Linked DNA regions of Homo sapiens. The protein of the gene in region 6 interacts with the protein of the main gene of each other region in a pairwise test. Each region holds a gene or a part of one and is shown on either strand. Other genes may lie near its edges.

Region 1 (3,500 bases), on a different chromosome or scaffold from region 6:
CTTAATGACCTCATCCACCCTCAGGAAACAATGACAAGACCTTGCCAGGCCTCCTGGGCAGGAAGCGTCAGTCCTCAGTCCAGTTAATTCTAGACTGTGTAGGAAATGTGTTCAAGACCTGAGATGGAATTTCTGCCCAGCCAGGACTTCTTTATTACACAAGATAGAGTTCTGAAATAGGGAGTCAATCAAGGTCCTTGACAGATTTTAAAAGCTAGTGGCTCATGCCACACTTTTCCACGGACTGACCATCAAACCAAACTTCTCAAAACTAGACCTTCTGCAATGATAATAAATAAAGCTCTCTATGACATCTGCCTCAGAACCCTAAAGCTGCCCACACCTACCTACAGTGACTTGAACCACCTGGTGTCTGCAGCCATGAGTGGGGTCACCATCTGTCTGCATTTCCCTGGCCAACTCAATGCTGACTTGCAGAAGCTGGCCGCAAACATGGTCCTGTTCCCCCACCTGCACTTCATGTATGGCTTCCCCCTGCTGACCAGCTGGGACAACCAGCAGTACTGGGCCCTCATGGTGCGTGAGCCCACTTGGCAGTTCTTTGATGCCAAGAATATGATGGCTGCCTGCAACCTCTGCCATGGTTGCTACGTAATGGTAGCTGCCATGTTCAGGGGCCACATGTCCATGAAGGAGGTGGACATGCACATGCTTAATGCCCAAAATATGAACAGCAGCTACTTTGTTGGTTGGATCCCCCAAGATATAAAAACAGCTGTGTGTGACTTCCCACCCTCAGGGCTAAAGATGTCCGGCCACCTTCACTGGCAACAACACTGCTATCTAGGATCTGATCAAGGGCATCTCAGAGCAGTTCACAGGTATACTTCGGTGCAAAGCTTTCCTGTACTGGTACACGGGCGAGGGCATGGATGAGATGGAATTCACCGAGGCTGAAAGCAACATGAACGACCTGGTGTCTGAGTACCAGCAGTAGCAGGAGGCCACGGCTGAGGAGGAAGAGTTTGAGTGAGCCAAGGAGGAGGTAGGTGGCCTAGAGCCTTCTGTTACTGTGTAAAGGGTGGAAGTGGTGTGAACCCTTTATTCACGCACAATCTGTTCTATGACAGCCATGTCTTAGTGTATGTGCGCTTGCTGTTGTGTCTTGACATCACATGTTCTAAAGACACCCCAAAGAAAGCATTTTCACAGTGAAAAAAAAAATTTTTTTGTTCAAGAGCAAATCAATCCAAGGGTCTGACTTCTCTGAGACTGTGAAAGCATTTATCCAAATACCAGTTCACCTGGTCAGAACAGTTACTTCTAGCAATGTGGAAAGGGTGCATAGTAACCCCTACTCTGTCTATTTCTTCTAGTACCTGGCTACAGGAGATTTTACCAACCCTTCTTTGTCCCAGAAACCATTCACCATCACTTTGAGGCCTGGGCACACTGCCGTAAGGAACCCAGCACTCTATAATGGCATTTTCAAAATACCATCACCCCAAGCGGTTGAGACTAGCTCATGCCAGGGAGATGGGCTGCCTCTGAGTGCCTCAAGCTCACGATAAGGTAAGCGAGCCAGAGCTGGAGCTGGCACAGCCCGATCTGAGCACTGCAGTCCTTTAGCTCTGGTTGCCATAACAATTTTGGCAAGCACAGCAGACGGAGGCCCTCATTATTAGGCTGACATGGCTTTGAGGCCTGTCAGGGCCTTGCAAAATCCTGGAAGCCTAGCTGTATGAGAGGGAGCAACCAACTGTCTCAGGCTGTGAGGACTGTTAAAAACCTGCAATAGGGTCCACAGGGATAGCTGGGGTCTCCATCTCTGACAAGACACCCCCTCTGTAGGCCACCCTTGTAGGTAATGGTTATGGATGGAATTGTATCTCCCCTAAGTTCATAGGTTGAAGTTCCAACTCTCAGTACCTCAGAATGTGACTGTATTTGCCGTTTTTAAAGAGGTAATTCAGATCAAATGAGGTCACTGGGATGGGCCCTAATGCAGTATACCTCATGTTATGGTTTGAATGTGGTCATCTTCAAAACTCATGTTGAGGCTTGGTCCCCAAATATAGTGATGCTGGGAGGTAGTACCTTTAAGAGGAGTTTGAGTCATGAGCCATGGTAATAATCCACCCCAATTAAGGGATTCATGCAGTCCCAGGGGAGGGTGTTCTTGCTCTCATTGGGTTGGATTAGTTCCAGTGAGAGTGGGTTGTTATGAAGCAAAGTTTGTCTCTTTTTTGTTTCCTTTTCCTATCTCCCTCGTCTCCCTTTCATTTCTTTTAAATAAACCTCTTCTCTTTATAAATTACCCTGTCTCAGGTATTCTGTTATAGCAACAGAAAACAGACTAAGAAAACTGTTGTCCTTACAAGAGATTGGGATATAACCACATACAGAGGGAAGACCCTGTGAAGACAAATGGAGAACATTGCCATGTACAAGCCAAGCAGACTGACCTTACAAGAAATCCACCTTGATCTCACCTTGATCTTGGACTTCTAACCTCCAGCGCTGTGAGGAGATAATGCTTCTGTTGCATAAGCTACCCATTCTGTAGTGCTTTGTTATAGCAGGCCTAGCGAACTAATACAGTGACTCTATATTTTAGTCAGAGAAGCTTGGATGATGCAAGCGCTCAAAACATCCATGGTTTTTATTTGAGCAAATGCCCCTTGAGAAGTACAGATATCAGTCTAAAGGGCAGACACCCTCTTAAAGACACACTTCACCTGCTGAAATGGCCAGATATTTTTAGAGGAGGACTCTCCCTAATGCATACTTTGTTAGAGCTCTCCTTTGCCTGTGGAGCAACAGTGGGAGCCACCCACCCTCCTGAACCAGCTGCTGGATACTAGGACATTCCCCTTCTCTAGCTTTCAATACCAAAGCCCAGGCCTCAGGGATTCTGATTAGTTGGGCAAGGCGTAGTTTGTTTTTAAAGCTCCGCAGGTGGTTCTAAAGTGCCCTCAGAACTAAGCAACCTGCTCTAGGGCCTAGACCATAAATTTCTTTCTTTTTTTTTTTTTTGAGACGGAGTCTCACTCTGTCGCCCAGGCTGGAGTGCAGTGGTGCGATCTCGGCTCACTGCAAGCTCCGCCTCCCAGTTTCACACCATTCTCCTGCCTTAGTCTCCCAAGTAGCTGGGATGACAGGAGGCTGCCACCGTGCCCGGCTAATTTTTTGTATTTTTAGTAGAGACGGGGTTTCACCATGTTAGCCAGGATGGTCTCAATCTTCGGATCTTGTGATCCGCCCGCCTCAGCCTCCCAAAGTGCTGGGATTACAGGCATGAGCCACCGCGCCCGGCCCCTAGACCATAAATTTTTAAAACGTGGGCTGAGTGTGGCAAGCTGAACAATGCCCCTGTCCCAAGAGATCCTAGCTACATCCTAATTCCCAGAACCTGGGAATGTTACCTCAAATATGATTAAATCCAGGATCTTGAGATGGGGAGATTATCCTAGATTACCTGGGTGGGACCTAAATGAAATCACAAGGAGGCAAGAAGGTCAAATGAGGAAGAAAGTGAT
Region 2 (3,500 bases), on a different chromosome or scaffold from region 6:
GCTAGATCAGGGGAAGAGGGACATCTTTTTCTGATTAGATATACAGTAGTTTAGTTGGAGTAAAATGTGCAAATTCACTACAGACCCCACGGAGATGACAATGTTGCCCAGCGCAAACTCTTCACTTTCAGTGTATTGCCAGATTTAGAAAGGAAAGGAATAATCGTTGGACCTTATTTTTTCCCCTATTTTGAGCATCAAATACTTTTGATTGAAACTTCCTCTTTTGTCATCAGGAGGAAAACCCAATTGTCCTTCTCTGCTTTTTATTATTATTATTATTATTATTATTATTATTATTATTATTATACTTTAAGTTTTAGGGTACATGTCCACCATGTGCAGGTTAGTTACATATGTATACATGTGCCATGCTGGTGTGCTGTACCCATTAACTCGTCATTTAGCGTTAGGTATATCTCCTAATGCTATCCCTCCTTCTCTGCTTTTTTATTCTAAAACGACAACCTTTTGAAAGCAGCAGGGAATGAATAAACTCCCTGTACATCAGTCCAGAGTAAGCAGCCAGCCACCCCCAAATCAAGTAGATATTTTTTCTCTCTTTTTTTTTTTTTATTGTTGTTTATCCAAAATATTTTCCTGCCATTCTCATCAAGTATGTTTCAGGGGTTAGTTAACACCTCAGCTGCATACAATGGTTATAGTACCTGCAAAGCCATTGAAATCAAAACCAAACTTGTCAGTTGGTTAAGCTAATTCAAGGTTACTATTTTGAAAATGAAAACTGGATTTACCACCAAATGGAAACACTGCCCTGTACTGTCATAAAATATAGTAGTCAGTCAGCCATTTGACCCGGTTAGTACTTAGCCTATCTTTATTCTTAGTTTTGAAAAGACTTGGAATTATTATATGGCCATATTTTAAAGTGTAATTTAGGATTCAGTGATACTCTCAAAGAAATTATACTATCAAGAGTTAAACTATTTTATAATTCCCGTTCATGCCAGATTTGGAAGCCAACTTATCTGAGAATTTACACATCTTTTATTATCCCATTTCTTTACATACACGCATCTTTTTTTCCTCTTTTTTTTTTTTTTTAAGCCAGACCAGCTTTCTTTAAGTTAGTCTAACTCCTCTTTCCACCGAAAGACCTCAACTATTATATTCTTCCTCAATAGGATGCTCTTCTCTTTGTGAGCCCCACGGGAGTCATTTCTACAGCAAAGCCTTCCTGACCTGCAGAGGATTGATCTTGCCTCATCATATTCTCTTACCTTCCTGTACTTTCTACAACTATAAGGAAAATAATAAATTTTGTAATTAGATATTTAATGTATATTCCCTGACTGAATATAAGCTGCAAAGAGACAGGAACTATAACTTTCTGTATTCACTCACTACTATATATTTATTAAGGAATGAATGCAACATTATGTACATAGTAGGAAATATACAAACAAACAGCTCTCGCATTCCAAGGCAGATTACTTCTAAGCATAAACATTTTCTTTCCTTTGAGAGGCCAAAGCCTTTTGGCGTATAGATCATTTAAACTTAGGGAAGAATCTTTGGCAATTCCCCTTCTAATTGAAAATGCTTGGCCAGGAGTGGTGGCTCACACCTGTAATCCCGGCACTTTGGGAGGCCGAACCGGGCAGATCACGAGATCAGGAGATTGACACCATCCTGGCTAACACGGTGAAACCCCATCTCCACTAAAAATACAAAAAAAAAAGCTAGCCGGGCGTGGTGGCGGGCGCCTGTAGTCCCAGCTACTCGGGAGGCTGAGGCAGGAGAATGGCGTGAATCCGGGAGGTGGAGCTTGCAGTGAGCCGAGATCACACCACTGCATTCCAGCCTGGGCGAAAGAGCAAGACTCTGTCTCAAAAAAAAAAAAAAAAAAAGAAAATGCTGGTTTCGTTTTCGAATTTTGGGATAAAGCTAGCTAATAAATTTTATATTAGATCAACCATCCTTGATCCATTTATCAGTGTATTCCTATTTGTGAGTTATTTATGGTAAGCTCACTTTCCACTCCCTGATCTGAAGTTCAAAAAACTGGTATAAATGCTTGGAAGAAACTCAATGAAAACGGTTGTTCTAGTTCAATAGGATCATAACCATATCTGTGTTTATATAGGCCCTGAGAATAACATAATGGTATTCAAGTATCTTCAGAGAATAATGCTGGGCCAACAAGGAGTTTGAGATTGTCCCTACAAATGATATGGCTTGACCAACCAACCTAATGTTGGATGATGCTATTTAAACAGAAGTTTACGAAAGGAATAGAAAAAGAAACTCTATTATTTGCACTGTAACCTGAGTTTATACTGTAAATAGAATAAATTCACATTGGCTTTCTAGATTTGGAAAAATCTATATTTATACCTATGCAATACAATATCTCTTCCAATGGTAACATTTCTAAGGGAAGAGATATTGCCTCTTTCACTGTATGCTTTAATAAATGTAACAGCCCATATTGAGGAACTCTTTACATGTGTAAGGAAGAACTATTCAACAGTGAGCTATTTGCATTTAAGATAGGGAGTTACGGGTGAGTAATGAACTCATTCGAAAGATTCTAAGATCTTACTTAGATGACATTTGAAGGCAGGTATAAGGCCATTTGGTAGGGATATCCTAGTTCCAGTTTATCGGTCTTTGTGCATTCGCGTTGAGTTGAGATGACTATTTGCAGATAAACACACTTCATCTGCAAATAGATTTTTAAATCACTATTAAAAAAAAAAAAACGCTATTACTACTGAGGGCTGCCAGCACGCTGTCACCTCTCAATCCGAACATCAGAAGGAACAAACTCCGGACACACCGCCTTTGAGAACTGTAACACTCACCGCGAGGGTCCGCAGCTTCATTCTTGAAGTCAGTGAGATCAAGAACCCACCAATTCCGGACACATTACCACTTCTATTACACATAGCCATACTGACAGAATCCAAGTTTTAAACCATATCTAAAATGTGAATTAGCATAAACTATTTTTATTTAAGCTTCAAACTTGTCTTTTTTAATCCCAGCTAAATTCACACCAAAATTAATAGTGAAAAGAAAGGGGGAAAACAATTTGGGTTATTATTACTAAAGCAGACTGTATCATGGGAAGTGACGTCTTTGTATGTTATTGAAATTGATTTATTAAGAGAAAATCGTAATACGCATTTACAGTAATTGTGACCTCTGCTATATTTTGTATAGTAGGTGGCCATATGTAGGAAAGGGCATACATTATAGCACAATTTAAGTTATATCAAATCTGAGTTTGAGTCACAGATCTGTACTTCAGTAATTATGACCCTGGCTAAGTTAGTCCATCTATTTGAATCTCAATTTTCTCATCTATGAAAATAGATAGAAATGCTGTCTCTTTTATAAGATTGAGGTGAAAGGTAGGAAAAAGACATCAGTATGTCAAGGTTTCAGCACAGTGTCTGGCACATAGTAGTTACCCACTCCATGTTTATTAATATTATAATTTTAATTATAATTAAATGTTTAATCAAAGGAAT
Region 3 (3,500 bases), on a different chromosome or scaffold from region 6:
TAGATGCCATTTGTTGAATTATTTATAATCTCTAACAATGTCACCTTTCAATCAGTGTATGATGTACATGTAGGATGACTGAAATACCAACTTTGTCAGAAGTAACTGATAAAAGCAGAGGTTTTTCCTAAATTTTGTACTCTATGCTCTAGTATATGAAATCCAATGGGCTTTATGGTACAGGAGGTTAGATAGAATATTTAAAATTCTTTGAATGGGCAATGATTCAAAGAGCCACCATAAAAGCCTTTCTGAAAATATTCTACAATGCCATTTCTATAGATAAATATCTTTGGAAAATTATAGGATTTTTTTTTAAAGTAAAGCCATAGTATTCTGTTTCATGTTTATAACACCATATCGACAAATAGCATGTATTTGTCAGGCTTCCATAGCCCACCTTTAAGAAAACCTGATAATGTAAAACTTTGAACTTAATAAGCAAGACATTAAGGGCTTGGGGTGGGCACAGCGGCTCATGCCTGTAATCCCAGCACTTTAGGAGGCCAAGGCGGGAGCTTTGCATGAGGCCAGGAGTTCAAGACCAGCCTTGAAAACATAGCAAGACCTAGTCTCTACAAAAACTAAAAAACATTAGCCAGCGTGGTGGTGTATACTGGTGCGTGCTTGTAGTCCTAGCTACTCAGGAGGCTGAGGCTGGAGGATCACTTGTGCCCAGGAGTTTGAGGCTCTTGTGAGCCATGATTGTACCACTGTGCTCCAGTCTGGGTGACAGAGCAAGACCCTGTCTCAAAAAAAGGACTATAATACTAACATTTTAAAGGGAATCTTTATGAAAAATACCTATACTCTTAAACAACAAACTATCCTATAGCCTTTATTACAGTGTTATTTGACTTTTTCAGTTTAATTTCTTAAAATTTTCAAGCAGTATTTACTGAGATAACTAAAACAGCTATATAACTTCTTTTGCATGCCTGTTCATGCAAAAATGAAAAAGGCAATGATGATAGTCTTTCTGACCTGTTCCTCCATATCTTGTGTCTCTTTTGTTATAGCAAATATACTTTAAAAAATAAGATTTTACATAGTATTACCTCTTACAACTGGCTTCACTTGTTATTCTGGCAACAGAATTTTCTATAACAATGATTTTGTACAAAAATGCTTTTTAACTGCTCTGTGCATAATAGTCAGCCTCAATCTTATTTACTTCTGTGTGCATATGATAGATGAAAAGGTACTGAGTAAATATTTATTGAATGAATGAATGAATGGACCTCTCAAATTACCCATATAATAAATTTTTTTAAAGGAGAGAAAAATAATGTATGTATGATTCCTCTTACCTGATATAATTACCTACTTCCTCTTACCTGATGTAATTAGGGCACTTTAATTTGTGAATAAAGAAACATTATGGTTATTTTGGTTTCCTGTCCAGGCCTCAGAAAGAAAATATGACTTATAGAGTTGGACACATTGCATCTAACTTATCAAGAGCTAAAAAGGCCTTTCATTTCTTTAGAATTGGAATAAATTTTCTTTTGAGTGGAGTAGGATGAGATAGAATTTAAAGATGACAAGCAAAATGATCTCAGTTTCTTTAGTTTTAAAATAGGTTCTTTGGGGGTAAATCCCAGTTTTTTGGTGTTCTTCCTGTCCCTTTCTCCTGGCAGAAATGTCCTTTAGATGTCAGGAAAGGTTCATGTGTTCTTATGGCAGGGAGGGGAGAGAGCCCCAGATCTGTGTGTGGTCTTTGTGCAGTCATCTGAATTCTCACTGACTGCCATGGAGATATATCTAGTCCAAACTAGTTACTGGGTTTCTTTATCTGCTGTTCCAGTCTATCATTAACTAAACCAGTATTCTTTCAGAGCTGTCAGAGCTTATAGCTCTCCCTTTCTCATTTGTTTTCTTCTCATTTTTCAACAGCATTTCAGGTCCTCATGTCTCAACCACATCTACTCTGTGAACCCTGGCTTAGTCTGTCTGCTCTGCAGCATCTGCTGTGGGGATCATCTCACAGTGACCAGAATGGCTTCTCACTCTTAACTCTATAAACAACCACCTTTCACATATCCTGCTGGGATCATGAAGGAATACCTGGACACAAGAGCCACTGCACAACAGCCAAGGAACTTTGAGACCTGCCATTACAGAACCTTTCTTGGCCTACTCACACTACGCTGCCATTTTATTCTGTTTGTAGTAGTCCTCTGTTGGGTGTGGTTATCCTGCAAGTTTTTCTCCTTTTAGAATGATGAACAGGAAGCAGGGCAAACTCTTGAAGATTTCCAGCTTTCAGTTTTTGTTTTTGTTTTTTAACCATTATTTACCTGAGTTTTCATCCTTGAGGAGGTGAAGTAGTCAGGACCATGAAGTCAGACCTCATGCCCTCTTCCTCCTCTTTCCTGGAAGAAGTATTCAGTTTCCTTTTCCTTTCTCTGGTAACTCCTCCTTTATACTATTCCCCCCTCCCTTTTTTTTGAGGAGGAGGGCATCACCTTCCCAGTGGGAAAAGGTGTTAAGTTAGGAGCTTCTACTGTACAATCAGAACTTGGAGATTTTAAGAAAAGGACAAACGGTAATTAAATTGGAATCTCTAATGTGCTTGTTTGTGTTAGTTTTTTTGTGATTATGTCACTTGGCATTTATTGAGTACCTGCAGTGTTCACACACAATGCTGGAGCCTTCATTAGTTACATATTTAACCCTCTCAGCAACCCTGTAAAGTAGGTAGTATTATCCCTGTTTTACAGATGAGGAAACTGAAGCTCAGAGAAGTGAATTAAATATCCTGGATCTGAACCCAATTCTGTTTGAATTCAAAGCCAAAGTTCCTTCTACTTTTCTGTTCCTACTCTTTGCATTTTATTTATAAATGTGTTAAAATTTTAGCAAAAATGGAGAATCTGCTGTTTAAAAATGTGTTTGCTTAATACATGGCTACTGTATGTCAATTGTAAATATTTATATAACCTACAATTATAATCTATTTTTATTATTTTTCTCTAGTAAAAATAAGTGAAGACAAAGTACCTTGACCTCTGCAGTAAAAGTTACCAGATAAATCCAGAGTTATCATTACTTAATGTTGTTTTTATGTTCACTGAATGTGAATTACCAAAGTATATAACATTTTTCATGTTTAAACTTTTATGAAAACTGGTGTGTATGGATTTAAGTCAAAGCCTGGACTTTATCTGGTGACAAGAGGTAAGTCTTTTCTGTGTAATCGTAATTAGCCCTGCTAAGCAGTTCTTACAGATCTACCCTAGTGCACTCTAAGAATGTCTGCCTAATGGTAAATGATTGCCTGAGGCAGATATAAAAGTTTTTCCCTACATGAAAGGATTTGCCATTTCTTGTGCCAATACAGTATGATAAAATCTATCTTTCCATCTTTTCCTTTTTTCTTTTTAATATTCTATCTCAACGCTAAATTATTTTATTCTTTCCTCTCAACCATGTGTTTATCTCTTTATTTTTAAATATTACAGCTTTCTAACATCTGTCTCTAGGGCAGCATAATCTTA
Region 4 (3,500 bases), on a different chromosome or scaffold from region 6:
TTCTGACTTTGGACTTGGAAACTGCTTCCTCCTGGGCTCAAAGACTTTTGAAAAGGGTGTATGGGGCTGTGCTAGGGGGCATCCTGTCCCCAGCCCTGCCTCTCACCCCCCAACCCCTAGGCACTGGAATAGCAGGGCCACAGGTACTCAGGAGGGCTTGGCATGTGGGGCCGTGAAAGGAGAGGCATGGAACCAACACCATCCACATTTCCTTACCTCTGTTCCCACATGGCCAGTGCTGGCCCCACTGATCTGCACCAGACTGTCCTTAGTGTCTCTGCTCCCCACCCCACCCAACCTGCCCCATCCCTGGCATAGCTGAGCCCCGATCCTTAGCATCTGGGGAGACAGAGGTGAGGAACATGTCCCCCTGGGAGCTGTAGGTCCAGGGAGACCCTGTGGGTGAGGATGCTCTCCCAGAGGCCAGCATGGCACAGAGGCTTCCTGCAGGAGGGGGCACTCGGCCAGCCCTTCGCAGTACAGAGAAGGCCTCTGAGGGGGCGGGGAGCCGGCGAGCTGCAGGGAGCATGCTGGGCACAGCAGGTACCTGGAGTGGGAAGGAAGGTTAGGACCAGGTAGGGCAGAGGAGCGGAGGGGCTGAGGACTGGGCTCTGCACTGCCGGGCACCTGCTGGGGTGGGTAGGAGAGAGCAGGGAGGGGCGCGTGCCCACTCTGCAGAGGAGCCTGCTCCATGGTGGTGGCTGCCGCAGGAGCAGCGGTTGCCTGGCACCTCTGCTGTTGCCATGGTGACGATGGAGGTGCTAACTTGCTAATGAATCCCCTTCGGCTGCAAATAACAATACTATTGTGGGTGATAGGCCCAGCTCCAGCTCAGCGTTGCTTAGGAGGCAGAGCAGGGCCAGGTAAAGGCCAGGACCCGTCCTCCCGCCCCTCCAGCCCCTGCCCACCACCCTGCAGCTGGACTTGCCCTCCTCCCTCCCCTCCCTCTGGGTCTCAGATCTGGCTGGCTGCACCGAGGTCTCTCATGGCAGTGTCAGGACTCAGGGCTGCATGAAGGCTAGGCCCTGGCTGCAGAGAGGGCGAGGGCCTCTCCTCACACCTGCCCTCCTCCCTGCACTGGGGGGTATTTGCTTCTGTTGTTTTCAGTGAGAGAGAATCCACCCCCACTTAACGGATGAGGACATTGAGGCCGGGGCAGCTCCTCAAAAGACCCCCAGCCCAAGTGTCCCTGCCACTGCAGCCTTCTCGGGGTTCTGGGTCTCTGAGCTGGACCCTTGGGTATCCTACGGGGCACCTGGAGCCGCTGTCTCACCAGAACCACACATCTGGGCCCTCGCCTCTCACCACCTGTGCAAGGCTCAGGTAGAACTCGGGAAGGACAAACAGCTCATCAAGGACCCCCTGTGGGTAGTCAGGGACCCCCTTGGCAGGCAGAGACCCTCCACAGCAGGCAGGCAGCAGGCCCTTTTGCTGTTGAACTTGCTGGGTCTGGCCCTGGAGAGGACTCCCAGGCCTCGTTCCCCACCCTGTGGTGGAGGCTGGAGCACCAGCCCAGGAACGTTATCTGAGTGGGATCCTGAGGCCCTGCTGACCAGGTGCCACTGCAATCCCTGGTGTCAGCCGTGGGGTCAGCTGAGGCTGCCCATCCACAGTCAGGTGTTTCCCTGGCCTCTGGCAACAGGAGGGATGGTGGGAATGCACAGAAGCCTGGGCCCAGTCGAGGCGGGAGGGGCCAGGCAGGGGCCAAGCTTGAAGTGTCTGGAGAAGGAGAGTGAGTGCGAGGCTGGGGCTCCTGGGCAGGGAGGAGCTGGGACCTGCCCCTCAGTGTGGAGTTGGGGCTGGGCCAGGGACGAGGTCCACACCAGCCTTGCACCTGCTGCTCTGTGAACTCTCTCACTGGCCCCCGCCGGCCTGGGAGCTGACCTGGAGAGTCCAGAAACGGTGGTGGCCTCTGTCCCCAGCCTGCTGTTTGCAGTGCATGGGTGTCCTCAGGGCGCCTCCCCCCAGTGCCTCCTGTGGCTGTGGGTTGGGGGTCTGGCTTGCTGAGGGCCCGCTACCCACCGTAGCCCGCTTTGCACAGGGCGCAGGGCCCAGGGTACATCTATCTCCCAGCCTTCCCTCAGTCCTGAGCTGGGTGGAGTAAACTTCCTGACTGCCTGGCAGCTGTGGGGGCACAGGGAAGATGGCATTGCAGGGACACCCAGTGCCCATCTGTGTGTGACCCAGGTGTGACCCAGGTCCCAACCCTGCCCCAAGCCTCGGTTTCCCCATAGTTAAAGCAAACTCATCATCCTTAACACTATGCGCCTCCTAGGGGCTGTGAGTGTAAAGTGGACCCAGAGGAAGGCCAGTCCTGGCAGGTGACAGGGAGATGGGGCCCGGCAGTGGGGCAGTGACAGGCTTGTCATCAAGCCTGCAGGAGGGGCTTCCGGAGACTCCATCCTCAGACATCCCTACTCCACCTGCCCACCCGGCAGTCTGAGGCCTTTGCAGGCCATGCCGAGGGCCTGGCACCTGCGGGGTCCCCGACACTGACCCTCCTCCCAGGGCTGCCCCGCCCCTCCCATCCTGGGCCCTATCAGCCCATGAAGGAGCCTCCTAGACCCCAGGCTCCGCTAGGGGAGAGGCACTGTGTGGGTGCAACACGCCCCTGCAGGAGCTGGGCACTCACCCCCAGCAGGCACGTGGCGCACACTAAACCTCAGCCTGCAGGTCAGGAGGGCAGCAGTGGCAAAGGAGCCGTGCCTCTGTGCCTGAGCCCCTCCCGCACCCGCCTGCTATCCGGCTGCCCCCGGGAGCCCACTCTCCAGTGGAGGCAGCCCCAAGGCCACCATCCACCAGGGGCTGGATTATCGGCTTACGGAGCTGCCCTGGAGTCAAGTCTCCAGGGATTGGACTCCCTGGGGCTGTGCTAGGGAGAGAGGGGCAGGTGTGAGGACAGCAAGCCCGGAGGAGGGCAGAGAGCTTGACCATGTGGGAGGGTGAGGTGCAGTCCAGACCCCGACTTGCTGGGGGTCCTGTGGTGGAAAAGATGCAGAAGTCACAGCAGGGAGATGCCTGTGTCCCAGGGATGAGATGGAATGTTCTGGAATGCCTAAGGGTCCGTGAACCCCAGGGCCCACAGGAAGGACCCCTGGCCTCTTCCAGCCCTCAGACCCTTCTCTGTGGGGCCCATTTGCCCCCCTCTGCCTTGTTGCATCCTGCTGAGAGCTGGCCTTGTGACCTGGACGGGGTCTCTCCAGAGGGAGAAGGGTTCCCACGGGCACATGTTGGTGTGTCCTGGTGGGCGCAGCTCCCAGCTCTGATCTGTCCTGGGGAGCTTCTGGGTGCCACCCAGGGGCCCGCAGCACTGCTGACCATCCCCCTGTCCCTGCAGGTCCAGCACCATGTGCTAGGTCACTCCCAGCGCGAGGCCACACCTGGGCCGTCGGAGCAGCCCCTCCTCACTTCAGGGGTCACCCTCCCCAGCACCCATTGCCCCACCATGGCTGGGGACCGGCTCCCGAGGAAGGTGATGGATGCCAAGAAGCTGGCCAGCC
Region 5 (3,500 bases), on a different chromosome or scaffold from region 6:
GGTGCAGAGAAAAAAAAAAAAACCGAGAAGCTACCCAGGGGGAGGGCTGAGCCTGGGACACACAGCTAACTAGGTCACTCCAGCACCGGAGCTGGGCCAGAGGACGTTTCAGGCAGAGTCTTTTGCTTAATGCTAGCATTACATGAACTAATCACCCCTGTTGGGAGCAAATGTTGAATGGCTCAGCGGGCCTTCCAAATCTGTGGAAATGGCCTCTGAGGGGCAGGGATAAATGATAGAGAGCGGGCATTGACTGCACACACACCCACGTGCCACACACGGCTCTCAGTGGTTCCCGTGCACCCTCATTTCATCTTCACCACAAGCCTCACATTAGGTCCAAGTGTCATCCTGTTTTACAGATGAGGACATGAGGCTCAGAATGGTAAAATAATTGGCCCAAAGCCATACAGCTAGGAAGCTGTGGACCCAGGATTTCCACCCATATCCGTGTAACCTCCGAGCCTATGTTCTTAGCTACTCACTGTACCAGGAAGAACAACTGTGGATTGTTCTTCTCTGGCTGACTGAAGAATTGTTTATGATTGCTGAAACCATAAATTTTGGGGGAGGTTAAATATGCACCATCCTGCCTATTTGCAACAAGAGCTTCCAAAAAATCAATTTCCAACAGATACTGACGTGTTCTTCCCCAATGGAACCTGCCCCAAATGTCCAAGGGAAGCCAACCTCAGCTGCTGGAGGTAACTACAGCTTGATGACAGTTACTGTATATTCAATCCCAGTTATGTGCCAGGTACCTCACATATGTCACTGAATCCTTACAACAATCCCACAAGGCAGCAACTCCTATCTCCCTCTTAAACTCAGAGAGATTAAGGAATCTATCCAGAGGCATTCAGCTATGAATGCCTGCACCAGAACGATCTTTCTGTTATGTTACGTTGCCTCCTTTACCCGGCCTCAGCAAATATACCCTATCAAAGGCTTGCTCTCAAGGTTCAGTGTTCACCAGGAGACAGAATCCCCCATTTCTTTTTTCTTTTATTTTTTGAGACAGAGTCTCACTCTGTCGCCCAAGCTGGAGTGGAGTGGCACAATCTCGGCCCACTGCAACCTTCGCCTCCCAGGCTCAAGCGTTTCTCACGCCTCAGCCTCCCGAGTAGCTGGGATTACAGGCATGCAACACCATGCCGGCTAATTTTGGTGTTTTTAGTAGAGACGGGGTTTTACCATGTTGGCCAGGTGTTGAACTCCTGACCTCAGGTGATCCACTCGCCTCAGCCTCCCAAAGTGCTATGATTACAGGCATGAGCCACTGTACTGGGTCCCTCATTTCTTTTTTCTTTTCTTTCTCTATGGGGACACGGTCTCTCTCTGTCACCCAGGCTGGGGTGTAGTGGTACCATCATAGCTCACTGCAGCCTCAACCTCCCAGCCTCAAGTGATCCTTCTGCCTCATTCTCCCAAAGTGCTGGGATTACAGTTGTGAGCCAGCACTCCAGGCTGGAATCTCTCCATTTCTAAGTCCTGCTGAAAGATTTGGAAAAACAGCACAAGACACAGAGAACAGATAGCTGAAGATATAAAATGAACTTGGTCTGTGGCGGAATGAACTTGACCTACGGCATGTATTTGGAGGTGACCTTTGATCTAACTGGAGCCTGAATAATCAATACACTGCATAATAAACCAAAAAAAAAGAAAAGAAAAGAAAATCAAGTGAGATCTAATAAAAAACTACCCCGGAGAAAAAGAAATCTCCCTCACCACAGAAAGTCAAAGGGGCATAGCCAACGTGAACCGAGATCAGGCTGGAATCTTTCCCGGAGTCCACGTGTCCTCCTGCACTAAATAAGCACGGAATTGACCATCTTGCATCAGGAAAATAACGTGGGTCCGCTGACTCGGGCACCAGCTTCATGGTGGCTGCCTATAAGCAGTTCCTTCATTAATTAAAGAAACATAATGGCCGAGTGCAGTGGCTCATGCCTGTAATCCCACCACTTTGTGAGGCTGAGGTGAGCAGATCACTTGGCGTCAGAAGTTTTAGACCAGCCTGGGCAACACGTTGAAACATAATCTCTACCAAAAATACAAAAATTAGCTGGGCGTGGTAGTACGCGCCTGTAGTCCTACCTACTCGGGAGGCTGAGGCAGGAGAATCACTTGAACCCGGGAGGCGGAGGTTGCAGTGAGCCAAGATCACGCCACTGCACTCCAGGCTGGGTGACAGAGTGAGACTCCGTCTCAAAAAAAAAAAGCAAACACCTGTAATCCCAGCTACTCAGGAGGCTGAGGCAGGAGAATCGCTTGAACTCGGGTGGCAGAGGTTGCAGTGAGCCGAGACTGGACCACTGCGCTCCAGCCTGGGCGACAGAGCAAGACTCTGTCTCAGAAAATAAAATAAAAACTTAAAAAGTAAAAAAAGAAAACATATCCCCGGTGGGCAAGTTGACCAGTAATGTGACAAATCTCCGCTGGACCCATGCCTAAGCCCTCCCAGAGGAGAGAGGAGGAGAAGCAGGAGGAGAGAGATTGAAGGGGATTTAAGGAGATTTATTTGGGGAAAGGAAAGATTAAAGAGATTTACAGAGACCCAGCCAAAGGAAAACTCAACAAGTTAACCCTTGAAATCCTCCCCTGAGAGCACACAAATCTCCACCTGGCACCAGCAAACCTAATTACTGTCCATTCAGTGGCCAAGTTCGAACCAGAAATTTGTACTTGAGACACAGTCATCATTAGCTTCTCTGGGAACAAGCTCTACCCAAACTCCCACTTCCCAAATCTCATTTTACTAATCAATAAGGACACTGAAGTTTGTTATCTTCACCTTTTCTTTTTTTTTTTTTTTTTTTTTTGAAATGGAGTCTCACTGTGTCACCCAGGCTGGAGTGCAGTGGCACAATCTCAGCTCACTGCAATCTCCACCTCCAGCATTCAAGCGATTCTCCTGCCTCGGCCTCCGGAGTAGCTGGGACTACAGGTGCACAGCACCACACCCAGCTAATTTTCTGTATTTTTAGTAGAGACGAGGTTTCACCACGTTGGCCAGGCTGCTCTCGAACTCCTGACCTCAAAAGAGGAGGTACCTCAAAGTCCCTCTGAGAATTTCACCTTCAAATTCAGAAATCCCTCCCCAGGGGAGCCCAGAAGCCCAAGGCTGTGTGCTTGCCCGTTTCCAGAGCCTCCCAGCACACGGGCACCCATAATGTGTAGACAGAGCAGGTGCTCCGAGAATTCCTGGGGAAACTGAACAAAACCACCAAATGAACTGTTCGTCCAAGCCCAGGTCCTTGGGGAATCTCACACCCCACATCCAGTCCACCAGCAATTCCTACCAGCTCCACCTTTAAAACACATCCGGAATTCGGCCAGGTGAGGTGGCTCACGCCTGTAATCCCAGCACTTTGGGAGGTGGGGGCGGGCAGATTTTTTTTTTTTTCTTTTTGAGACGGAGTCTCACTCTGTCGCCCAGGCTGGAGTGCAGTGGTGCAATCTCGGCTCACTGCAAAATCCCAGGCAGGCTCCCACAT
Region 6 (3,500 bases):
AGGGTCTTGCTCTGTTTTCCAGGTCTCAGGCTGGTGTACAGTGGCACAATCAGGGTTCACTGTAGCTTCAACTTTCCGAGCTCAAGCGAACCTCCCACTCCAGCCTCCCCAAGTAGCTGGGACTACAGACACGTGCCACCACACCCAACTAATTTTTTTTTTAACTTTGGTAGAGTCAAGTCTCACTATGTTGCCCCAGGCTTGTTTTGAACTTGTGGCCTCAAGCCATCAGCCTGCCTCAGCCTCCCAAAGTATTGGAATCACAGGTGTGAGCCACTGTGCCTGGTCAGTAGTTGTATTTTTCAAGCCTCATATGATTTGACAAGGTAAAACGTTTAAAAACTATGCCAAGAAAATCTGGTACCTATTGTTTCTATGGTTGGAACTCACAGAAAGTTATCTGGGTCACCTCTATCTGAATAACCAAACAATCATGATATGAATCAGTTTTATTCACCCTCTTCTCAAATCCTATTTCCCTTGATGTTATTTGCAAATAGGAGAAAAAACAGTAAATACGCTATGAAAATATTAAGACTTGTACAAACATGACATTTTTGACAATCTAATAGACGTAACATCAATTCTGGCAAAAGTACAAGCCATGAATATTTGTTGCCTGACTTAAATAAAGACCCAGGTACTTTGTTTAGTGTTTTAATTTTAATGACAAAATGGTGTTTTTTGTATTATTTCTTGAGAGGTTTTTTTTTTCCCCATAGGTTTCTGTCTAGATTCTCCTGGGCCATTGGACAGTAAAGAAAAGTATGTATTCACTGCTTTCAAATGTTTATATGTAGAAAAAACGTGTCTAAACTTAAATACCTTATTTAAATGAAGTTCTTCATACACTGGACTGGAGCCCTGGATTTACCTGTGCCTAGAAACACTCTGGAATCTCAAGAATGAATAGTTTGTGTCAGCAATTTTCAGAACTTTTTCTCCTTTATTTTAGCTATAATTTTGGTGTTCTGTTTGGGTCTTACCCAAACCCTTACTCTGTGCTCTGACATCATAGCCTTACAAGAACATGTGGGGTTTTTTTGTTTGTTTGTTTGTTTGTTTCTGAGGCAGAGTCTCACTCTGCCGCCCAGGCTAGAGTGCAGTGGCTCACTGCAACCTCCACCTCCCAGGTTCAACTGATTCTCCTGCCTCAGCCTCCCGAGTAGCTGGGACTACAGGAGTGCACCACCACACCCGGTTAATTTTTGTATTTTTAGTAGACACGAGGTTTCATCGTGTTGGCCAGGCCAGGAGTTCGAGACTCCTGACCTCGTGATATACCCTCCTCGGCCTCCCATAGTGCCCATAGTGCTGGGATTACATGTGTGAGCCACCGCGCCCAGCCGAATGTGTGTATTTTAAGAAAAGACATGGGTTTGTTTTTTTTCACCTAGAAGTCTAGTGTTGGGGGTGCTCCTGAGAACAGGACAGCTTCAGAAATTTATTCTCCCATCTCTTGCCTAAAATGGGAGTCTGTGACTGTACCCCCAAGCTACAGGCTAAACACTATCTCTCTGCTAATATGAATACCTCTTTACTTGTTTTATTCTCATTATTTACCTTCTGATCTCATTACAGCCTTGAAAATCCTATGAGAAGAATACATTCCCTACCTGTAAGTTAGTTCCTTGTTTATTTTGAGCTAATACCTGTTATCTGTTCCTTAGCTACCAGCATGACCTTGATAGGAGACTTAATTTAGAGAGTAAAAACTGCTTTTCTTTAGTCTCTTTTGAGACAAGGTCTTGCTCTGTCACCCAGGCTGGAGTGCAGTGGCAAAATCTTGGCTCACTGCAACCTCTGCTTCCCTGGCTCAAGTGATCCTCCCACCTCAACTTCCAGAGGAGCTGGGACTATATATAGGTGCACACCATCACACCCGGCTGATTTTTGTATTTTTTGTAGACATGGGGGTCTCACTCTGTTGCCCAGGCTGGTTTCAAACTCCTGCCTCGGCCTCCCAAAGTGCTAGGATTATAGGCAAGAGCCACTATTCCCAGCCTTTCCTTAGTCTCATAAGTACTCAAGATGTTCGGTCTGGAGGAATTTGTCCTCCATCTCTAACAGAGCTTTATTAAACCAGGAAGGGTTCTTTTGATGCAAATGTTATTTGGGGATTGATTTGGCACTGTAATCCCTGTTGAGGGGGGCACTGTAGACCTTGTGAGGTTAGCTGTAAACCCATGGAATGGAAACTTCTATGCTGTGTCCTGGCTGTGTCCTGGCAAGGTGGATTCCTGGCCACATTTACTGGTTACCTACTGCAGTGTGTGAGGAGCTAGTCTACCCCCTATTCAACCCCCCTTTTTTTTCTTTTGAGAACTGAATTTTCCACTGAAATTTTATTTGTGTGCCTTAATTATTTTCCTTTTTTACTTTGATAGCAGAAGCTGTTGGGATGTAGTCCAGCTCTGAAGAGGAGCCATTCTGATTCTCTTGACCATGACATCTTTCAGCTCATCGACCCAGATGAGAACAAGGAAAATGTGAGTGTGACTTCAATGTACTAACCTGAGGCAGAGGTGAAACCCACAGGCTGTCAGTGGCTTAGAAGTGGCTGGGCTGCTTTCTGGGAGACTAAACTTGGCCATTATGTGCGGTCTTTGGAGTCAGAGAATTCTGGGTTTGGATCCTGCTTACTAGCTGTGTGATGTTGGCAAATTCTTCTCTTTTTAATCTTTGCTCTTTTGTAAAATAGGAGTAGTAATACCTTTTAGGGATGTTGTGGCAATAAGTAAGATTATGTATGAAGTATTGAAAATGGTGCCTGACAGGCGGGAGTTGCTCAGATTGTAGCTCACAGGAGTAATTACATGTACAAATAGTGTTTGTCTGGAAGGCTCTGCCCAGGCTGTCCTTGCCTCTTTGCTCTGACCCTGAAATGAATTGTAAGCTTAGGAAAAGGCTCTTTGGCAGTATTTGTAAGAACGGGGTCAACAAGTTCTAGGGAATCTCAGAGTAACTGAAATGGTGGCTTGGAAGGTGAATTTCTGGTTATCTACCCTGAATGAGCCTGGCTTTTTTGTTCTTTTAGACATTGCACAGAGTAGGCATCCAAAACAGTTGTAATTTTTTCAGCCTTCTCTCTACTGTATTTCTATATATTTACTTTCTCCCCTTTTCCATTCCTGCTGAAATGCCACAGTTCATAATCCTTGTCCTTACAATCTTCAGGTTTAGTGTGAAACCCACTGCCTCCATGAACTCTCCTGATGATTTCTTTATCAACCTGGGAAGTGTCATGAGAAAGAATATGGAAATGAGTTCCAGCCTTGAGTGCTTGGAACAGTGTATCAGCCTCTAGTGCTTTTTACCAGGGCAAAGCTGTACTGATGCCTGGTTTTCCCCCGAAATAGCTTCTCAGGGTTGCTTGCCTGGAGCTTTGTTTTAAAGGGAAAACAGCATAGATGGTGGTTAAAGAGCTCTCACTCTGGAGTTGTCCTGTTTTACTTCAATATTTTGGGCACATTCCTTAACCTGCAAGGTCTAGTTTTCTC
Region 7 (3,500 bases), on a different chromosome or scaffold from region 6:
GGAGTTTGAGACCAGCCTGACCAACTTGGTGAAACCCCATCTCTACTAAAAATACAAAATTAGCTGGGCATGGTGGTGGATGCCTGTAATCCCAGCTACTCAGGAGGCTGAGGCAGGAGAATCACTTGAACCCAGGAGGCGGAGGTTGCAGTGAGCCAAGATGACGCCACTGCACTCCAGCTGGGGCAACAATAGCGAAACTCCGTCTCAAAAAAAAAAAAAAAACTGAACAACTACACAGCTGTAGTTGGTAAACAGTCATTTTTATGACTGAGAGTTAGGCATGCTGAAGATAAAGAACTAGAAAACTTTCTAGTAGAGAGTGTTGTTTGCTCTCATCTGGTTCTGAAGGTTATATGTCAAACAATAATTGGATGCCAAGAATATTAAGGCATAGATAGAGTAGATCTCATCTCAGAAAATGGTTGGTGTAGCTCAATTTCAAGCCTTTGTGATATATGATATCTCTGGAACCTGAGGAGCTCACGACAGCATAGAAAATCAACTGAAGCATAAAACATGCTCACATCTGAATTGGTCTCTTTTGACTTCATTTTGGAATTTGTGACACCAAAGGGAAAAGCAACATGTCGTCACAGGTTTTACAGGCAGTAGCTGCAATAAGGGAACAAAATCACTAAGGTTGCACAGAATAGAAAAGTCTATTAATTTATGCATTCATTTGGTCTTCCGTTTTTCAAATATATTAATACAACCTGCCACAGAATCCTTTTGCCCTTATTTAAAAGTAAGGGCAGCCAGGCACAGTGGCTCACGCTTGTAATCCCAGCACTTTGGGAGGCAAAGGCGGCGGATCACCTGAGGTTGGGAGTTCAAGACCAGCCTGACCAATATGGAGGAAACCCATCTCTACTAAAAATACAAAATTAGCCGGGTGTGGTGGTGCATGTCTAATCCCAGCTACTCGGGAGGCTGAGGCAGGAGAATTGCTTGAACCCGGGAAGCAGAGGTTGCGGTGAGCCGAGATGGCGCCATTGCGCTCCAGCCTGGGCAACGAGTGAAACTCCGTCTCAAAAGAAAAAAAAAATAGAAATAAAAAAATAAAGTAAGGGCAATGGCCTTTTTACTGTTTGGATTATAACAAATTATTGCCTTTTGTTTGCACAGTTGAGGCTTTCAGTGAGCTTAAATGAAAAATTCCGTCTTTTGGCTGTGTAAGTTTTTGCCTGCATATGCAAAGGCTTCATAAAATAATCTCTGTGACTAAAATTTCATTTCATCTGTTCTCAATCATCCCTTAACCCAGCGCTATATTACCTTATGCCTCCAATTCAGTGGTAGCCCTCTACGGAATAGAATTCCACTCCAACCCCTCATTCATGATGCACTAAATGAGAATGTAAGAATGATGCTACTGTGTGAAGTAGGAGACACTTTCTCAAACCGTATCCCTTTTTTTGATGTATGTCAACCAGATATCTATGTTTTCAAACAATAGTGTTTTTAAGCTGTAAATGAACCGTAGTACTGCTTTTGTAGAACTAAAATTGTATAATTGTTACATCATCTTAATTTTGCAGCTAACAGAACAAGAAGTAGAAACAATATTGGATAAAGCAATGGTCCTTTTTAGGTTTATGCAAGAAAAAGATGTATTTGAACGTTATTATAAACAACACTTGGCAAGGAGACTTCTCACAAATAAAAGTGTTTCTGATGACTCTGAAAAAAACATGATATCTAAGTTAAAGGTAAGGTGTGTTTTAGATGAAATAGAGTGCACCTAACTGAGGTTTATTATGATTGTGTACTGACAACGTGATTGGAAATTAATTTGGTAGATTATTAAGTGTTTATTTCTAGAAATAAAGGTAGATTGTTTTGGAGAAGAACACAGACTACACTAACATTTGTTCAAGTTCAGGGACATTCAGAGTTTGCTGGAATTTCTGTTGGTGTGTCAGGATACATTCATGGAGGCCTGGAAGGGAGGATTAGTAAAAGGGAAACAATAAAGAGGCTATGCTGTGTAGTTCTTTTTCACAAAGTGTGGTCCATAGAATACTTGCACGTGAATCACCTGAGATGCTAGTTAAAAACAGTTCTGGGCCCTGCCTTTCATGGGGGTATATTGGAATCTCTGAAAGAATCTGGGAATTTGCATTTTAAAATCCTAAAGTTTGATAACCACAGGCACAGAGCAACTGTTGGAAAAATTTACAGGAAGATTATCAGGGATAGCAATAACATGAAATAATTTATTTCTTTCTGTACTTTCTCATAGAAACATCTACCATTTATTTGTGTATATTTGTGTTTTTCCTCCACAGACTGAATGTGGATGTCAGTTCACGTCAAAACTGGAAGGAATGTTTAGGGATATGAGCATCTCAAACACAACGATGGATGAATTCAGGCAACATCTACAGGCAACTGGTGTAAGATTCTGCGTTAATTTCTACTTAGATATTCATGTAAAGTCTTTTGTAATGGGTATATTTTCATCCACTTAGCAGATGACAGTTGTTTCTTTAAATGTCATTAGTGACAACATGTGTTTTATCTGTGAGTACTTAATTTTCCTTCACATTGCCTCTTATTCTGTGTTTATGTTAAAACTTTTTATTCTTTTAAAATTTAGTTGTTTCTTCCCACTTGAAGGAATACACTGACAATTTAATAAAGAGAATTATTCTGTTGTTAATAAAGATAATACAAATCTATTATAAATTGTGGAAAGAGTACTGGGCTTAACACAAGTTTACTGAGTTTCAGTACTCTTCTTTTCACTTTACCCCAAGATTGTGTCATCTTGGGATAGTCACCTGACCTTCCTATACCTCACTACTATTATTCTCCTCTGTAAGTTTAGCTTAAATGGGACTTACATCCTAAGGGTGCGTAGCAGGTGAAGTGAGACTATAAAAACACAGAAATTAATGTATTATAAATGTGTTTGGTATAACTCCCCAAAGGTGGTGAGCTGGAACTTCTTTAGCTTTGGAGTCTGATGGGAGTTTTATGAGCATTTAATGAAATTCAGAATTTAGTTTCATTTTTTACTCTGATTTTCAACTTAACCTTAAGTTTAGAGAATTGTACAGTTTTTAAATTTTTAAAATCACCGTGTACCACTCTATGGTTAAAATGTGTCACAACCATTTAACAGATTTGTGAGTCTTTTCCTTTGGTATCTAAATATGAGATCATCACTTCTACTGGCCTTATAGTCTCGCAAACCAGATACGTGAAAATACGTAATTCTGTAGAATAACCATTCATTTCTATGAAAACATTCTGACTCTAATGTAAATAGTTGTATGATTTGCTTTATAAATATCAGTGTTTACAGTGGAGAAGAGCTGAGAGGAGGAAAGATGCAAGTCCATGACAGAAATTTCGGGTGGACAGGAAATAGTGGTGTAATTATCCTGGATTTTTATTTTTAGATTGTTTAGGAATTTATAGTTAAATCTAATATATTGATATATTTTCTTGTATTTTTTTGTTTGCTCTAGTAAGTTTTTAAATTTTTTTCT

What was found.
Region 1: the proteins of CDC25A (region 6) and MTAP interact in a two-hybrid assay, tested with the Homo sapiens proteins (one large-scale study listed by BioGRID and IntAct).
Region 2: the proteins of CDC25A (region 6) and SOX5 interact in a two-hybrid assay, tested with the Homo sapiens proteins (one large-scale study listed by BioGRID and IntAct).
Region 3: the proteins of CDC25A (region 6) and NAA11 interact in binary tests that used the Homo sapiens proteins (3 or more experiments, as listed by UniProt).
Region 4: the proteins of CDC25A (region 6) and DUSP8 interact in a two-hybrid assay, tested with the Homo sapiens proteins (one large-scale study listed by BioGRID and IntAct).
Region 5: the proteins of CDC25A (region 6) and CAMK1D interact in a two-hybrid assay, tested with the Homo sapiens proteins (one large-scale study listed by BioGRID and IntAct).
Region 7: the proteins of CDC25A (region 6) and CUL3 interact in a two-hybrid assay, tested with the Homo sapiens proteins (one large-scale study listed by BioGRID and IntAct).

The regions. Positions count from the first base shown.
Region 1 is NC_000009.12:21,809,136-21,812,635, reverse strand, and holds part of MTAP (S-methyl-5'-thioadenosine phosphorylase), read right to left. Parts: intron 1,148-3,500; exon of another isoform or gene 274-1,147; intron 1-273. UniProt on the Homo sapiens protein: Catalyzes the reversible phosphorylation of S-methyl-5'-thioadenosine (MTA) to adenine and 5-methylthioribose-1-phosphate. Involved in the breakdown of MTA, a major by-product of polyamine biosynthesis.
Region 2 is NC_000012.12:23,537,171-23,540,670, reverse strand, and holds part of SOX5 (transcription factor SOX-5), read left to right. Parts: intron 1-3,500.
Region 3 is NC_000004.12:79,316,188-79,319,687, reverse strand, and holds the end of NAA11 (N-alpha-acetyltransferase 11), read left to right. Parts: intron 1-1,896; 3' UTR 1,897-3,041; downstream 3,042-3,500.
Region 4 is NC_000011.10:1,565,772-1,569,271, reverse strand, and holds part of DUSP8 (dual specificity protein phosphatase 8), read left to right. Parts: exon of another isoform or gene 1-1,323; intron 1,324-3,337; 5' UTR 3,338-3,445; coding exon 3,446-3,500. UniProt on the Homo sapiens protein: Has phosphatase activity with synthetic phosphatase substrates and negatively regulates mitogen-activated protein kinase activity, presumably by catalysing their dephosphorylation.
Region 5 is NC_000010.11:12,356,047-12,359,546, reverse strand, and holds part of CAMK1D (calcium/calmodulin-dependent protein kinase type 1D), read right to left. Parts: intron 1-3,500. UniProt on the Homo sapiens protein: Calcium/calmodulin-dependent protein kinase that operates in the calcium-triggered CaMKK-CaMK1 signaling cascade and, upon calcium influx, activates CREB-dependent gene transcription, regulates calcium-mediated granulocyte function and respiratory burst and promotes basal dendritic growth of hippocampal neurons.
Region 6 is NC_000003.12:48,181,918-48,185,417, reverse strand, and holds part of CDC25A (M-phase inducer phosphatase 1), read left to right. Parts: intron 1-722; coding exon 723-765; intron 766-1,581; coding exon 1,582-1,618; intron 1,619-2,387; coding exon 2,388-2,489; intron 2,490-3,500. UniProt on the Homo sapiens protein: Tyrosine protein phosphatase which functions as a dosage-dependent inducer of mitotic progression. Directly dephosphorylates CDK1 and stimulates its kinase activity. Also dephosphorylates CDK2 in complex with cyclin-E, in vitro.
Region 7 is NC_000002.12:224,501,864-224,505,363, reverse strand, and holds part of CUL3 (cullin-3), read left to right. Parts: intron 1-1,541; coding exon 1,542-1,712; intron 1,713-2,291; coding exon 2,292-2,399; intron 2,400-3,500. UniProt on the Homo sapiens protein: Core component of multiple cullin-RING-based BCR (BTB-CUL3-RBX1) E3 ubiquitin-protein ligase complexes which mediate the ubiquitination and subsequent proteasomal degradation of target proteins.